Linked DNA regions of Homo sapiens: region 2 is linked to region 1. Evidence: fine-mapped expression QTL. Tissue or cell type: whole blood. Region 1 holds a variant in brackets; the other region holds the start of a gene. All regions are shown on one strand. Distances are from middle to middle.

What was found. PIP is the estimated chance that this variant, and not a neighbour inherited with it, causes the effect.
Region 2: MAPRE1 starts here. The variant in region 1 is fine-mapped to the expression of MAPRE1 in whole blood (INTERVAL, PIP above 0.99).

Annotation. Positions count from the first base shown.
Region 1 is chr20:32,843,490-32,851,490 of GRCh38, reverse strand. MAPRE1 (microtubule associated protein RP/EB family member 1) reads right to left here. Exons shown (of 7, transcript NM_012325.3): 6 at 4,721-4,873; 7 at 1,086-2,819. The coding sequence ends at 2,763. Among named protein-coding and RNA genes, the nearest start is that of EFCAB8, 11 kb to the left of the region's middle. The variant A/C (reference allele first, on the strand shown) is at 3,677.
Region 2 is chr20:32,816,665-32,824,665 of GRCh38, reverse strand. It overlaps MAPRE1 (microtubule associated protein RP/EB family member 1), which reads right to left and starts at 4,712. Exons shown (of 7, transcript NM_012325.3): 1 at 4,638-4,712. RefSeq lists enhancers at 2,994-3,663, 3,664-4,333 and a silencer at 4,406-4,995.

The DNA of each region.
Region 1 (8,001 bases):
ATTTCTAATAGCATATAATTTTATAAGGGAGAAAAAAATGGTGACAATTTTAGATTATTTTATAGATTAAGATCATGTTAACTGACTTTGAAACATACTTTCAGGGCTGGGTGCAGTGGCTCACACCTGTAATCCCAGCACTTTAGGAGGTCAAGGTGGGAGGATCACTTGAGCCCAGGAGTTCAAGACAAGCCTGGGCAACATAAGGGGACCCCATCTCTACAAAAAATACAAAGTTTAGCTGGGCATGGTGGTGCATGCCTGTAGTCCCCACTACTCACGAGGCTGAGGTGGGAGGATCGCTTGAACCCAAGAGGGCAAGGCTGCAGTGAGCCAAGATCATGCCACTGCACTCCAGACTGGGCAACAGAGGGAGACCCTGTCTCAAAAAAGAAAGGAAGAAAGAATCACACCTTCAGAAAAAAAAAAAAAAAAAATCTCCCCACAGTCATCTGCCAAGCACTGTCCTGCTATATTTCTCAGAAGGAAATGCCCTGAAAAGGCTTCACAGCAGATAGGCCAGGCCTTGGACTTCCGAGAGGAAAAACCTCTTACAGCAACGAGAATTTTAAAAAGCAGGAGGCTGTACAATATAATGTGAATGAAGAAAAAAGAAGTCAGCTTAGAAATAAGCACATCTGACCGAGCACGGTGGCTTACGCCTGTAATCCCAGCACTTTGGGAGGCTGAGGTGGGTGGACCACGAGGTCAGGAGTTCAAGATCAGCCTGGCCAAGATGGTGAAACCCCATCTCTACTAAAAATACACAAAAATTAGCCGGGCGTGGTGGTGGGTGCCTATAATCCCAGCTACTTGGGAGGCTGAGGCAGAGAACTGTTTGAACCTGGGAGGCAGAGGTTGCAGTGAGCCGAGATCATGCCACTGCACTCCAGCCTGGGCGACAGACCAAGACTCCATCTCAAAAAAAAAAAAAAAAAAAAGAAGAAGAAGAAGAAATAAGCACATCTGAAAAATCAGTAAAGGATGTGAAAAGATCAGTCCTCACTGAAGAAAGAAGCACTGGTTTCCCATCACTTGAACCTAACAGCATATACCCAGGGCAAGACAAATTTCAGAAGACATGATACTCTTGAAATACAGAATTTTATTTAGAAACTGTTTAAAGTAGAAAAAAACCCTGTCAAGAAAGACCAGGTGGAAAATGGGTTCCCAATAAAATGGAATTTTAGGGCAACAAAAGTCTAAAAGGCCACAAAAGAGAAATAGCACCACTGTCATTTGAACAATGGCTAGTTACTTGCATTTTTTGGCATTGTTAATCACTGAATCTGGGTTTTCCTCTGAATTCCACACAGAGCATGCACTACACAACATTTTTATCATAAAATACTTGCTTTCTACACACATTTCAGGACAAGCTACCACCAGAAACAAATCAATACAAATACATCAGGGGCTGAACAATCTCAGTAGTGGGTGAGACACATTTTGCAGAATCCTGCCAAACAAAGGAACTGAATAGGCTGTGGGCAAAGCAAATGAGGGAGAGTTAAGGAATGAAGTATTTTAAATATTAATAATTAATTCAGACACGGTACTGTATTTTCCGCAAAAGAAAATTAACATTTAGTAACACACTAATGAATTTTATCTCCAAAGAGATTAGTGCACTGGCAAAGTATTCGGATTACAGTGGAGAGCTGTGAACAGCAGATACCGAAAACACCCCAGCCTGGCAGATCCCAAGGTAACGATGGCCTTCACTGACCACTCCCTTTGCCAGAGGTCCAGAAAGAACTTGCAGCATGATCACCTGCCTGCTGCACTTCCAACTCTAAGCAGCAAACTTCAAGGAGCCAAAGAGGAGTCCCCAGTGGGCAAGGGGAGCAGAGAAGAGAAACGTGGTAAATGTAAACCTAAAAGACAGTAAAATGGGATACAATCCCCATTCAAATCCCAGAGATGTGGGCAAGTCCCCAAAAGTAGTTGTTAGATTAAAAAACTGGGCACACCTCACTTCCCCAAAAAATATAATACATAGAAATTTCGGGGATAACTGGAAAAATAGAGAAATGCTCAATGAAAACCAAGCTCTTCAACTGTAACATCTCAGGGCTGAAACACATCCTCTATTATCCAGGCAACGATGCCTCTTGCTTTTTAGCTGGGATGCAATTGGTCAATGACACCAAATAACTTTACAGGGCAACTTTTTAAATGTTCCTTTTAGACCAAAGCCTAGGCCTATGAGGGTTCAAGCAGCCCTGTAAGACCTGTTGACAGCAGGTTCCAAAGGTTCCAAGGTCTGGCCCTTCCTTCCCAGACACAATGTCAAACGCAAAATCTCTTGTCATGTTACATTTTATATTTTGAAATGTGGAAGCATATTTTAAATACTCTTAAGGCATTTACTTATTACAACATTCTCTGATTTCACATTAGCTTAAAATTCAATTCAGTCTTTACATTTCTCCACTGAGGTCGCCACCTCAGCATATTACATAACATCTCTCCAGCATTCAGTGTGACCCGCATCCGCATGGTGAGCCCCACGGTCAGCCTCTCTGTTTTCCAGGTGAACCAACTAGGTGTTAATACTGCTCTGCTACAAGGTAAAAGCTCCTAACTCAAACTTATTGGAAAAGGAGTGAAACGTCTGCAAAGTGCACTTTAAGAAGAGGTACTTTTTGCTTATGAAAAGAAACCAGTGAGTCCTCTAAGGATAACAAAAGGGAGTATTTTACAGTTAAGCACATGATTTGGAGTGAAGAATTCCGATGTTGCTCTGCTGGTCCAGGCTGTTAATACTCTTCTTGCTCCTCCTGTGGGCCCCCTTCATCAGGTATCACAAAGCCTTCCTGAAATAGGAAAATGAGAGGGGAAAGCCACTGAAAGATCCATTTCTACTGTGAGTTCACTTTCCTCATACTTACAGCCTCTTAAAAACAATGGTTCTTCCTGGCTCTATACAGGCCAGGTGACTGCTATTTTATTTCTTGGGTAGTAGAATTGCATCTCACCAAAGACAAAAACTGAGCACAGTCAAATTTACCCTCAAACTTTTGAAAGTGATGCATATTTACATTGTCTTCATTATGGTGGTAATTTCACCCATGTCATCAAAGGTACATTTTAAATATGTGCAGTTTATTATGTCAGTTATACTTCAATAAAACTGTTTTTTAAAGAAGAAAGAAGGCCAGGTGTGATGGCTCATGCCTGTAATCCTAGCACTTTGGAAGGCCAAGGCTTGAGCCCAGAAGTTCAAGACCAGCCTGGGTAACACAGTGAGACAATGTCTCGAAAAAAAAAAAAACTAGCCAAGCCTGGTGGGACATGCCTGTAGTCCCAGCTACTCCCCAGCGGGGTCGAGGCAGGACTGCTTGACCCAGGAGGTCAAAGCTGCAGTGAGCCATGATCGCACCACCAGGCACTCCAGCCTGGGCAATAAAGTGAGATCCCCGTCACTAAAAAAAAAAAAAAATTTCCCTCAAAAATTCCTGAAGTCCCCTGTAAAGTTCAGTACTCTAACATCTTCTCTCAATAAACTGTCTATGCAGCCAGCTTTCCTTTTATGCCTTCCTTTTGTTATACTTAGGAGCCATGCTTTACCCAAAATATTCACAACAGCAAGACTGACCCAACATCAGTGGCAGAAAAATTGAGTGCACAAGGAAAAAGCAGATTCATGACTCCCACACACCTCATTCTCACT[A/C]CAGGGCATTCTGGCATGGACTCAGAGCAGGAAATTACTATACTATTCTGCTGTAAAATCAGACTTCTCTTTCAACCACCATCTTATTTCTATTAACTAAATCTCTATAGCTGAACTTACTTAAGATGTGGCTCCACTAAAATAATACTCAGACTAAACCAAGGACCCCCTATATCTTCGTTGTCTTTTTTTCATTACATAGCACAGAGCAAGCTCTAAATTAAAGATTTATTCAACAGATTATCAACTTTTCAGTCATCTGTCTTAATCCCCTGAAATTCACAAGATATGTCTCAAGGACAGTGACAGTAACAGCATTATTACTACCTTGTATTTGCATAGTGCTACACATACTACCAGAAGTTTGTAGTTTGATCCTACAGACCTTGCTAGGCACACAGAATTACAAACATCACCATTAAACAGTGGACACAGCCGGATAACAATCCTAAATCTAGAAAAAAATGAGTCTTCCCTGATCAACTAACATGTCGTGATTAATATCAACAGATTTGACTGTGCAATAAACATGGATCCAAAGAAACTTGATCATAGAGTACTTTGAGGGAGTGAGAACCAGGCAAACTCCTAGGAGGGAGGAGAAAGGCATACCCAGACATGACGTGATATGTGGGCACGCCGTGAAAAAGGGAGCATGTGCCTGCTTTTCCGGGCATGCCCCGGGCCCTGATAAAATGGAGGCAGCAACTGAAGCTGAGGGATCCAAGCAATAGGAGGTGGGGTGGAGTGAGGACATGGGTTGCTTCTGGCTAAGAGCAGTTTGTGGCACTCATCACCTATCAGTGGCCACATACTACAGATGCTGGGCAAGCCAGCCACCTCCTTGTCCTATTCCTTCTTCAAAAGCTCACAGACCTCAGGCAGAAGCTAAAGCTGGGCAGAGATGCCCTCTGGCTGACTTTGAGGGGTTAAAGATGAAGTCTTTTGATGAATGCAACACTGGAATACAACAAGCATCAGCACAGAGTTCACCAACCCTTCTATGTAAAATGGAAAGAAAATATCCTCATGTCAAACACATACATCTGTGGCATACAGAATGTCTACAATCCTCTGCAATACAGGGTCGTTTTCCCCCTCGTTCTCCTGGCAAATCAATTCAATGTTCCGTAGCTTTCCGAAGTAGAAATCCCTCTCTTTCTCCAAGTCTTCAACAGTAAGTTTCAATACGTTGACCTGCACAAGACATTAAAAAGGGTGAGATGCTTGGCATTAGTATGGCAATAAAATATCAGGCAGACTTCTAACCCAAAAGGAGATGTGGTCTTTGATCAAACCCCAACACAGACAAAAACCACATCAGTTTAATGTCAATTTTCTTCAGCCTCAGATAAACAACATGGATTTGTTTATAGCAACCTTGACGGTAACAGCTCCCAGAAAGAGCAGACTACCCCTTGAAACATGTAGAAGCTTCTCAGGGACTGAAAAAGGATTAAGGAGAAAAAACTAGGGAAGCCTGAGACAATTACAGCCTAGCAAGGTAGCTGACAATCATAAACTGAGTCCTTACCAAGGGACTGGACAATCAAGTCCAGGTCTGATTGCATGAGGGGGTCAATAGAAAGGACCCTGGAAAGGGCTCAATGGAACTCTTTGGAAGCCCAATGGAAAGTGCTCTGACCCTCCATGAGCCCCACTGAGGGTCTCTGATTCCCATTAAGAGGCTATGAAGAAATCTGTCTCAGTCCTTAGGCCAGGACTCTATCTAGCCAAGACCAATAAAAGTTATAACACTCATAGTCCTGTGTGTACTTTAACCATGGGGCATCTTCATTCCAGTGTACTGTATTCACATCTATGACAAGTGAATTCCATTTAACTGTCAATGAATGCAAGTTGCAAAAACCTGTATTTACAGGTCAGGGCCACAGAGCAGCATGGAAAGTAAAGCAACAAAATCAAAGGTACAGCCACTGAGAACGACCTCGGCAGAAGGGAATTCTACAAGCCAGAAGGGACCAGAGAAATCATCTAGTCCAGCCTTCTGAACTCACAGCCACAAAAACTGAAGCATGTCAGGTGGAGTGGCGCACGCGTCTCAGCTACTCTAGAGGCTGAGTCGGGAGAATTGCTTGAGCCCAAGAGTTAAAAGCCAGTTGTGACAACATAGCAAGGCTCCATCTTTTTAAAAAATAAATAATAAAAATTTAAAAACAGAAATAAACAGCTTATCTAGCTTCCCCACAGCCTGATGAAGACACCAAACACAACAGAGGAGATCAAGTCTCATCCCAGGAGAAAGGACCCTCTTTATAACCTGCAGTCAAAAAGCATCCAGAGATGAGGATCAGGTGACACCACCAGGACAATTTTATCAAAACGAATTTCAAAGTTCATCATCAAAGTCTTGTTAGACCAAACCAGAATCACAGTTCTAGACAGCCTTTCACTATTCCTTTACCAGCCGCAGAAATAAAAAATAATTGAAAGTTTCAATAAAGTACTAGAGGGGCCAGCTGCCGTGGCTCACATCTGCAATCCCAAAGCTTTGGGAGGTCAAGGTGAGAGGATCGCTTGAGGCCAGGAACTTGAGACCAGCCTGGGCAACATGGCAAAACCTGTCTCTACAAAAAAATCTAAAAATTAGCCAGGTAGGGTGGTGTATGCCTATAGTACCAGATACTTAAGAGGCTGAAGCAGGAACATTGTCTGAGCCCAGGAGTTCAAGGCTGCAGTAAGCTATCAATGGACCATTACACTCTAGTCTGGGAGACACAGCAAGACCCTGTCTCATTCAATCATTCATTCATTCATTCATACATACATACATACATACATACATACATACATACATACATACAGTACAGCTACTGCCTGGTGGCCGGCAAAGCTAAATCATCCATTTTCCCTCACTGTCCCCACCTCTGCTTTTGCTGCAGTTTGCTGCCTTTCCTGAAACCAACAGCCCCAAAGAGCAGGGGATACACAGGCCAAGAGCCGACCAGCCCCAGCGGGAAGCAGACTCAGAGCTACAGCTCCACAATCCAAAAGGCAGGGAAGGGGCCTTCTAATCACATGCCTGGTGGCATTAATGACCAAGGAAGAAAGGAAGTCGAAAGAGCTTATGAAAAGGAATGCTGGCCAGGCGCAGTGGCTCACGCCTGTAATCCCAGCACTTTGGGAGGCCAAGGCAGGCGGATCACGAGGTCAAGAGATCAAGACCATCCTGGCCAACATGGTGAATCCCCGTCTCTATAAAAATATAAAAATTAGCTGGGCATGGTGGTGTGCACCTGTAGTCCCACCTACTCAGGAGGTTGAGGCAGGGGAATCACTTGAACCCGGGAGGCGGAAGTTGCAGTGAGCTGAGATCACGCCACAAAAAAAAAAAAAAAAAAAAAAAAAAAAAAAGGAATGCTAGCTTGGTATCCACCTAGTTTCACTAGTTTCACTAATGCTACCCTCTCAAACCCTTTAAAACCTTCTCTGTCCAACAAATTATCAAGGCCAAACCAGATACCCAGCCTTCTGGGTCCCACCTATAAAGGCCAAAAGTTGCATCTGTCCATGATATTGCTCATAACTATACACACATAACAAACACTAAATCACTAAAAAAATATATACTAAGACACTGGCTTTCACGTGGCACTCCTTTCAAGTCTGTATTCATGAGGTTATTAAAAATCTGTGGCTTGGCCAGGTGCAGTGGCTCACATCTGTAATCCCAGCACCTTGGGAGGCCAAGACGGCCAGATCACCTGAGGTCAGGAGTTCGAGACCGGCCTGGCCAACATGGTGAAACCCTGTCTCTACTAAAAATACAAGAATTAGCTGGGCGTGGAGGCAGGCACCTATAATCCTAGCTACTTGGGAGGCTGGGGCAGGAGTATCATTTGAACCTGAGAGACAGAGGTTGCAGTGAGCTGAGCTCACGCCACTGCACTCCAGCCTGTGTGACAGAGCAAAACTCCATCTCCAAAAGAAAAAAAAAAAAAAAACCTGTAGCTAGTAATTAAGGTCACTCTTAGAACCTTATCTTGAGGTAAAGCAATAGTTATAACCTAAGAAGCCCCAAGTCAGTGTTTCAGGCCTGCACTGGCCACAGTAGCCATCAACCACATGTGTCTATATAAACACTTAAACGTGGCCAGTGCCACTGAGATGAGCTACAAGTATCACATACACACCTGATTTCAAAGACCTAGCAGAGTCTTCAAATGTAAAACAGCTCATTGATCATTATTTATATTTGATTATATGCTGGAGTATTATTTTTTACATATTAGATGATGTGTTGCTAAAATTAATTTTACCTATTTCTTTTTATTCTTTTTAATGTAGCTACTAGACCATGTAAA
Region 2 (8,001 bases), 27 kb after region 1:
AATTGAAAAAGTAAATCAGCTTTTCAATACCTAGATATTAAAAAGGCAGTATCAAATGACCTTACAGGTGAAGAATCCTTGTAGTTAATTCTCTGCAGAGCTACCTGGCAATGGTAGGGCATCTGTGGGCCTAAGTGCCAGATACTTCACAGACACTTGTTGTTTAACCCTGACAGCCCTCTGCAAGGTTCACTTCATGTCCCTCATTTTACAGGTGAGGACAAGAGAGGCCCTGGGGTTGGCAGGCAAGCCTGCCCAGCCCCAGCCTCCACATTCTCTTCCCTCCCTTTTCTGCTAGGCTTTCAAATTCAAAACAATAAACACACAGCAATGAGTCTAATTTTCAAATGCTAGTAAATGTGGGCGTTATTGTCTATGAGCACCAGTGTAGTCAACCGTCACTCATTCTACAAATGTTTACTAGCTCTACCGCGTGCTAGGCACTGTTCTAGGGACCAGGATACAGAAAAGCAAGAGACAAGGTGCCTGTCCACAGGGAGTTCACATTCTAGTGGTGCAAAGTCTGACACTGACCAAATACACCAACAAACATCATTTCATACCAACCACTTATGCAACGGGGTTTACGGAATGTGGTCAGAGGAAGCCTCTCTGAGATGAACAGTTGAGCTTAAGGATCAGAGAAAGAAGCAACCACATGAAGCTCTAGAGATAGGGCTCTCCAGCCCAGTGAGCAAGGAGAGCAGAGCCTGAGGTGGGAACAGAAGGAGTTAGGATTTTATTCTATTAAGAAATCCACTGTTGGGTTTGTTTTTTGAGGCAGGGTGTCACTCTGTCACCCAGGCTGGAGTGCAATGCCACAATCACGGCTCACTGCAGCCCTGACTTCCCAGGCTCAAGCCATCCTCTTGACTCATCTTCCCAAGTAGCTGGGACTACAGATGGTCACCACCAAGCCCAGCTAATTTTTTAATTTTTTGTAGAGACCAGGTCTCATTTTGCGGCCCAGCCTCAAACAATCCTCCGCCTCAGCCTCCCAAGGTGCTGGGATTACAGGCATGAGCCACCACACCCAGGCACTTTCAGGTTTTAAGTGCGGTAGAATCTTGCTCTCATTACAGTTTGAAAAAGATCACATTGACTACTAGTAGAGAACAGACAGTAGGGAGGGAAGACTCAAGATAAAGGCAGGCTAATCCAGATCTAAATCAAATCCCTGAGCAGTCACCATGAGGACACACTATGAAATACCAGAGACTTCATAGTGACCTAGACACTTAACAATTTTCTTCATTTCATAAGACAGCAACATTACCAGTGGGGAGGGGCAGGGGAAAGATGCAGAGCAATCTGGAACAATCCTGAGATCCCAGCCCCTTGCTCTCTTACGGTACTTCGTTCCCTCCACCTAGTGACTAGAGTTGGTCTTTCCACATCAGTCTCCTGCACTAAGCTGCTGCAAGCCTCCTGACTCACCAAGCCACAGAATGTGACAGCCAGAAGAGGCAAATCCACCCATCCAGTCCCCTTTTTATGGGGTGACTGAGGTCTGTAGAGGTCAATAACTTGCCAGGTCTGCGTGCCCTCACATCTCCCAGGCACCTCATAGTATCTTGCACATAGCAAGCACTCACTACTTATTTTCAGGTTGGCAGAACAGCGTCAAAGAGAGAAAAATGTGTCTATATAAACTTGTCAGAAAGCAAATCATCAACACTGTTACACTCCCCAAATCAGCTGATAAAACCATGTTATGCAAGACACCAACACAATTTAGTTACTGACTCCACTGGGAAATTAATCCCTATGTTTCCAGAGCAATTCATTCAAACCTTTATGATAGGAAGTCCCACAATGAATTGTCATTATCTCGTTATTTCTGAACCATTCTCGAGCCAGATTTGGGCCAGGAAGCAATCCACTCGATGCAAACAGCTGAGGATTTCAAGCCAGGAGGACATGGGTTTGAATGTGAGGCAGTCACTCATTAGTTGTGTGATCTTAGGCAAGTTACTTAAACTCAATGTACCTCAGTTCCCTTACAAGTTAAAGCCACCTATCTGAAAAGGGTCATAGAAGGGTTTAAATTAGATAAGGTACATAAAATATTTGGCATGGCATCAAATTTAAGAGGTATTTAACAAACAAGATGTAGGGTAGGGACCTTGTCTCACTCATCCTCCTATCTCCAATGCCAAAAACAGTGCGCCTGAGACCTGCCAGCACCATCTTGCACGGAGATGCACTGCAACAGTCTTCAAATTTGTCTGTGTCAATCTGTTCTTACACAGCAAACCAGAGAGAATTTCCTGAATCACAAATCACAGCAAGTGCCTCCCTTGTTTAAAATCCTTGAATGAACAAAATACTGTGCGCAAAATCAGGTACCAGAGACATTCAAACAAAAAAGACATGGTCCCAGCTGAGCAATTGTAATCTATTATGGCGACATTCCTATATATACTGTATCGTGTGCATCATGCTGCTATAAAATCTAAGCAGCTGGTAAAGCCATGTGTGTCTCCTGACCACACCCCAGCTCAAAAAACATTAATGGCCTTTCATCATCATATAATTTAAAACTTTCATTAGCAGTACATTAATACCTGGTCCCACGTGCTCCACAAACGCTGCAGCCACTAAATACATGGATTAGGCACCCTGTGGATGTACAATGAACATCCACCGACTCAATCAATTAATTGGCTCCTCCTGACAATCAAAACAGAGCTCCAGCTCACCCTTCCTTCACAATTCCATCATTGGCAGCCATGGAAGACCCATGACTACCACACAAATCTCACCCTTACAAGGCTTCCTGATCCAGGTTTCCACCACCACCATGAAAAAGCTCCCTCAAACCTACCCAGGAATCTCTCTTCCTTCAGCAGCTCTCCTAGCAAGATCCCAAACCTATACAAATTCAACGCTGGCTCTAAAGCACTCTATTACTTTCAAGGCACCACAATAAGCCCTATGTAAAGTGGGGGAAGGAGGTGCCACCAGAAAGGACCTATGTGACCGTGGGCAAGTCACTTAATCTTCCTGCATCACAAATGGCTCATCCTGTAAAATGGGTAAAACAGTATCTCTGCACAAAGTGGTGGTAAGGATTAAACAAAAATCTACATGAAAACACTTAAGCAAAAGGCACATCACGTCCTAAGCTTCCCTCTGTGCCAAAAACTGTGCTAGGCACTTTGACGCACCACCACAAAGGGCACATCTGGATGTGTAGCTCTGGACCTCAGGGAGAAAGTGTAATAAAGAGGTTAAGAGCCTAGACACTGAAGTCCCAGGTGGGGGTTCAGCCACTTGCTGGGCTGCATAAGACACTCCGCCTCTCAGAGTCTCAGACCCCTTATTTGTAAAATGAAAGTAATCTCTCTTGCCAGGCGCGGTGGCTCACACCTGTAATCCCAACACTTTGGAGGCCGAGGCGGACAGATCACTTGAGGTCAGGAGTTCGACAACAGCCTGGCCAACATGGCGAAACCTCGTCTCTACTAAAAAATACAACAATTAGCCGGGCTTGGTGGCGCGCGCCTGTAATCCCGACTACTCGGGAGGCTGAGGCACGAGAATCGCTTGAACCCGGGAGGCGGAGGTTGCAGTGAGCGATGGTGCCACTGCACGCCTGGGCAACAGAATAAAACTCTGTCTCAAAAAAAAAAAAAAAAGGAAGAAGAGAATCTCTCTTAAAGACAGTGTTAGTATTAAAAGACACAAAGCCACATGGAGCACTTAACAGTGCTTGACACAAAACAAGTGCCCAACTAACAAAGAGCTGCTATTATCATTACTACTGTTAGAGACATGCCATCGGAGAAGCGGATGCCCGGCCTAGCATAACCTCCCTCAATGGGCCCCAGGATCCTCATCCCCAAAATGGGGCAGAGGTCAAGCTCTGCCCTGCAGCATCCGAGGGCAACTGTGAAGTAGGGACTGAACTAGCACTGTTGATACCATCCCGTTATACTGTCCTCCTGCTCATCATAATGTGGATTCCTGGAGAGCAAATCTTTGTTCCCGGGAAAACAGCCAGGGTTTAGCACGGTGCCCAACACCTAGTGGGCATTCAATAAACACACACTGAAGAAAGGAGGGAGTCCAAGAGCTGGCTTACTTTCTGCCATACATCGCGCTAAGAGTTTAATGTGGGTAGTATTACTGTCCCCGTTTTACAGATGAGGAAGCTGAGATCCACAGCGGTTAAAGCACCTGTCCAAGGTCACACCGCACGGAACCCAACCCAGGTCTGACTCCACCACCCGATCTCTCGGCCCTCAGGCAACACGGCCTCCCACAATGTGCGTCCCCAGAGCTCCCAGGACGGCCCACCTCGCCCACACCCTCCCAGGGCCCAACCACCCTGGGACCTCCAGTCGCTGCAGCGCAGGGACCACACCTCAGCGGCGGCCCAGAAACCCCCACCCCGCGTAGCAGCAGCCCACTTCCGGCCCGAGACCCCGCCCCCTGAGCAGAGCGCAGCGCGCGCCCCCAGGCCCAGCCCGCGCGCGCCGGGTGACGGCCCCGCCCTTCCCCCACCCGGCTCGAACAGCACCGCCGTGTGGAACGGCCCTGGCGCTGCCCGTAGGGCCTGCCCGCGCACGCCCGGCCTTGGCCCACGCGGCCGCCCCCCCAGCCGCACCCCCCGGGCCCGCTAGCCGGCTCACCGGCTCTCGGCAGAACCGCGTCCACTGCCCGCAACCGGCTCCGGTTCCGTCTTCGTCTCGTTCAAACCGCCAGACCCCGCCCGCCCGCCCGCGCGATGACCTCACACGCACCCCCTCGTTACGCGCCGACGTAAAGGCTCGCCATCCTCCGCCGGCTCCTTTTATAGAGAGGGTCTCAGCCGCGCGCCGGGGGCGGAGCTCGGCCCCTGATCCACAGAACGGTAGCCGAGGGGCGGGGCCCCGACCGCCGGGGCGACTGCGGCACGTGGTCGGTCGCAGCCAATGAGGTCCCGCCTCGGCCCGGTGTGACTCAGTTACAAAATCCCTATGGCAGTAACCAAAAAGAAAATTGCTTTTACAATGAATTTTTTTTTTTTTTTGCTTAGAGATGTATGGAGGTCTCGCTGTGTTGCCCAGGGTGGTCTCGAACTCTTGGCCTCAAGCGATCCTCCCGCCTTAGCCTCCCAAAGCGCTGGGATAACAGGCGTGAGCCACCGCTCCCAGGCTTACAATTAATTTCTGTAAGAATGGGTTATTGAATCATAAAGATACCTAATAGACACTTTGGGGAAACGCTTAGAAGTCAACTTTCTGGGCCGGGTGCAGTGGCTCACGCCTTTAATCCCAGCACTTTGGGAGGCCCAGGTGGGAGGATCACCTGAGGTCAGGAGTTTGAGACCAGCCTGGCCAACATAGTGAAACCCCATCTCTACTAAAAATACAAAAATTAGCCTGGCGTGGTGGTGGGCGCCTGTAATTCCAGCTACTTGGGAAGCTGAGGCAGGAGAATCACTTGAACCCAGGAGACGGAGGTGGCAGTGAGGCGAGACTGCACCACTGCACTCCAGTCTGGGCGACAGAGCAAGACTCTGTCTCAAAAAAAAAAAAAAAAAGTCACGTTCTGTGACGCCCCCGCCCCCCCATCTGCAATATCATGCGGCATATTTTCTTCTTAGTACCATAAGAAGGCATCTTGTGCCTTTACTGTCTGTCTCCTGTAAAGTCCACAGGAGCAAGGACCTCCTGAGTCCTGTTCCGGGTTGTTTCCCAATGGCTGTACATACATTCTCTCTTGCCCACTCCCTCTTTTTTTTTTTTTTTTTTTTAAGAGATGGGGTCTTGCCATGTTGCCCAGGCTGGGCTGGTCTCCTGGGCTCGAGAGATCCACCCGCATCGGCCTCCCAAAGTGCTGGGATTACAGGCGTGAGCCACCACACCTGGCCCTTACATTCTCAAGAGAGCCTTGGCTGAAGGAGGAACTGGGCTGGGCGTGGTGGCTCACACCTGTAATCCCAACACTTTGGGAGGCCAAGGCGGATGAATTACCTGAGGTCAGGAGTTGGAAACCAGCCTGTCCAACATGGCGAAACCCCATCTCTACTAAAAATGCAAAACTTAGCCGGGCATGGTGGTGGGCGCCTGTAATCCCAGCTACTTGGGAGGCTGAGGCAGGAGAATCACTTGAACCTGGGAGGCAGAGGTTGCAGTCAGACTTCGTCTAAAAAAGAAAAAAAGAGGAACTGCACCACTTTACAGCAGAAAGAAACTGAGGGACAAAGAGGCCAATTGACTCACTCAGTGTCAGAGGTAGATCCAGATTTCAAGCTGACTTTTTTTGTCTGGGTATCATTTATTCAAGTATTCAACAAATATTTTCCCTGACCAATCAGGCCCTGGTGAAAAAAAGACACAATCTGATCATGGTGGTACGTGCCTTTAGTTCCAGCTACTGGGAAGGCTGGGGCAGGAGGATCGCTTGAGCCCAGGAGTTCGAGGCTGCAGTGAGCAAAGATCACGCCACTGCACTCCAGGCCTGGGAAACAGAGTGAAACTCCATCTCTAAGAGATAAAAACGAAAACTAGACACAGCTTCTGACCTCTTAAAGTTTCCAGACTGGCAGGGGAGGCAAAGGGGACACAACTAATGACACAAATCCTTGTTAAATTACAAATCAGGCTCAATGCTAGGCAGGGACATTATGTGGTGGGCTGATGGTACTTCCACTGTGTGGAGCAGGGGCCTAGAGGTCCCTCTAGGCCAAATCTCACCCAGTTAGTTGCTGAAACCCAGTAAGACGTTCAGGGAAGAATGGGTGGGGAAGCTGGGGCAGGAGCTGTTTATCAGCAGGTCTAGAGGCATTTCAATACTTCGGTCTCGAGTACTGCTCCAAGAGCACACCACAAGAGACATGACCTCTCCTAGGTAGTGTGGAAAAGCTTCCCAGAAATGACACTTACCATGAAAGATGAGGAGTTACCTTGGCAAAAGAGTTTGAGCAAGGCCAGTTGTGGTGGCTCATGCCTGTAATCCCAGCACTTTGGGAGGCCGAGGTGGGCGGATCACGAGGTCAAGAGTCTGAGACTAGCCTGACCAACGTGGTGAAACCCCGTCTCTACTAAAAATGCAAAAATTAGTTGGGCGTGGTGGCGCGCGCCTGTAATCCCAGCTACTTGGGAGGATGGAGCAGGAGAATTGGTTGAACCCAGGAGGTGGAGGTTGCAGTGAGCTGAGATCGTGCCACTGCACTCCCGCCTGGGTGATAGAGCAAGACTCTGTCTCAAAGAAAAAAAAAAAACAGAGTTTGAGCAAAAAAAGGCAAGAAAAGCCAGGCGCGGTGGCTCGTGCCTGTAATTCCAGCACTTCGGAAGGCTGAGGTCGGCAAATCACGAGGTCAGGAGTTGGAGAACAGCCTGGCCAACATGGTGAAACCCCGTCTCTACTAAAAATACAAAAATTAGCTGGGCATGGTGGCGGACACCTATAATCCCAACTACTCGAGAGGCTCAGGCAGGAGAATTGCTTGAACCCAGGAGGTGGACGTTGCAATGAGCCGAGATGGCACCATTGCACTCCAGCCTGGGCAAAAGAGCAAGACTCCAACTCAAAAAAAAAAAAAAAAGAAAAGAAAAAGAAAAAAAAAGAGGCAACAATAAAGAATAAAAAACCATGTAACAAATGATTATAGCGACAGCAGTAATATGAACATTATGGTGAGCTGATGTCAAGCATAGATAATCAACTAAAGATATTTATAAGTGCTTTGATGCAACATCTGTTACCTGTATTTTATTTATTTATATTCTTTTTAAAAAACGAAGAAACAGAGACACTCTGTCGCCCAGGCTGGAGTGGAATTGTGTGATCTCGGCTCACTGCAACCTCCGCCTCCTGGGTTCAAGCCATTCTCCTGCCTCAGCCTCCTGAGTAGATGGGATTCCAGGCACACACCACCATGCCCGGCTAATTTTTGTATTTTTAGTAGAGACAGGGTTTCACCATATTGGCCAGGCTGGTCTCAAACTCCTGACCTCGTGATCCGCCCACCTTGGCCTCCTAAAGTGCTGGGATTACAAGCGTGAGCCA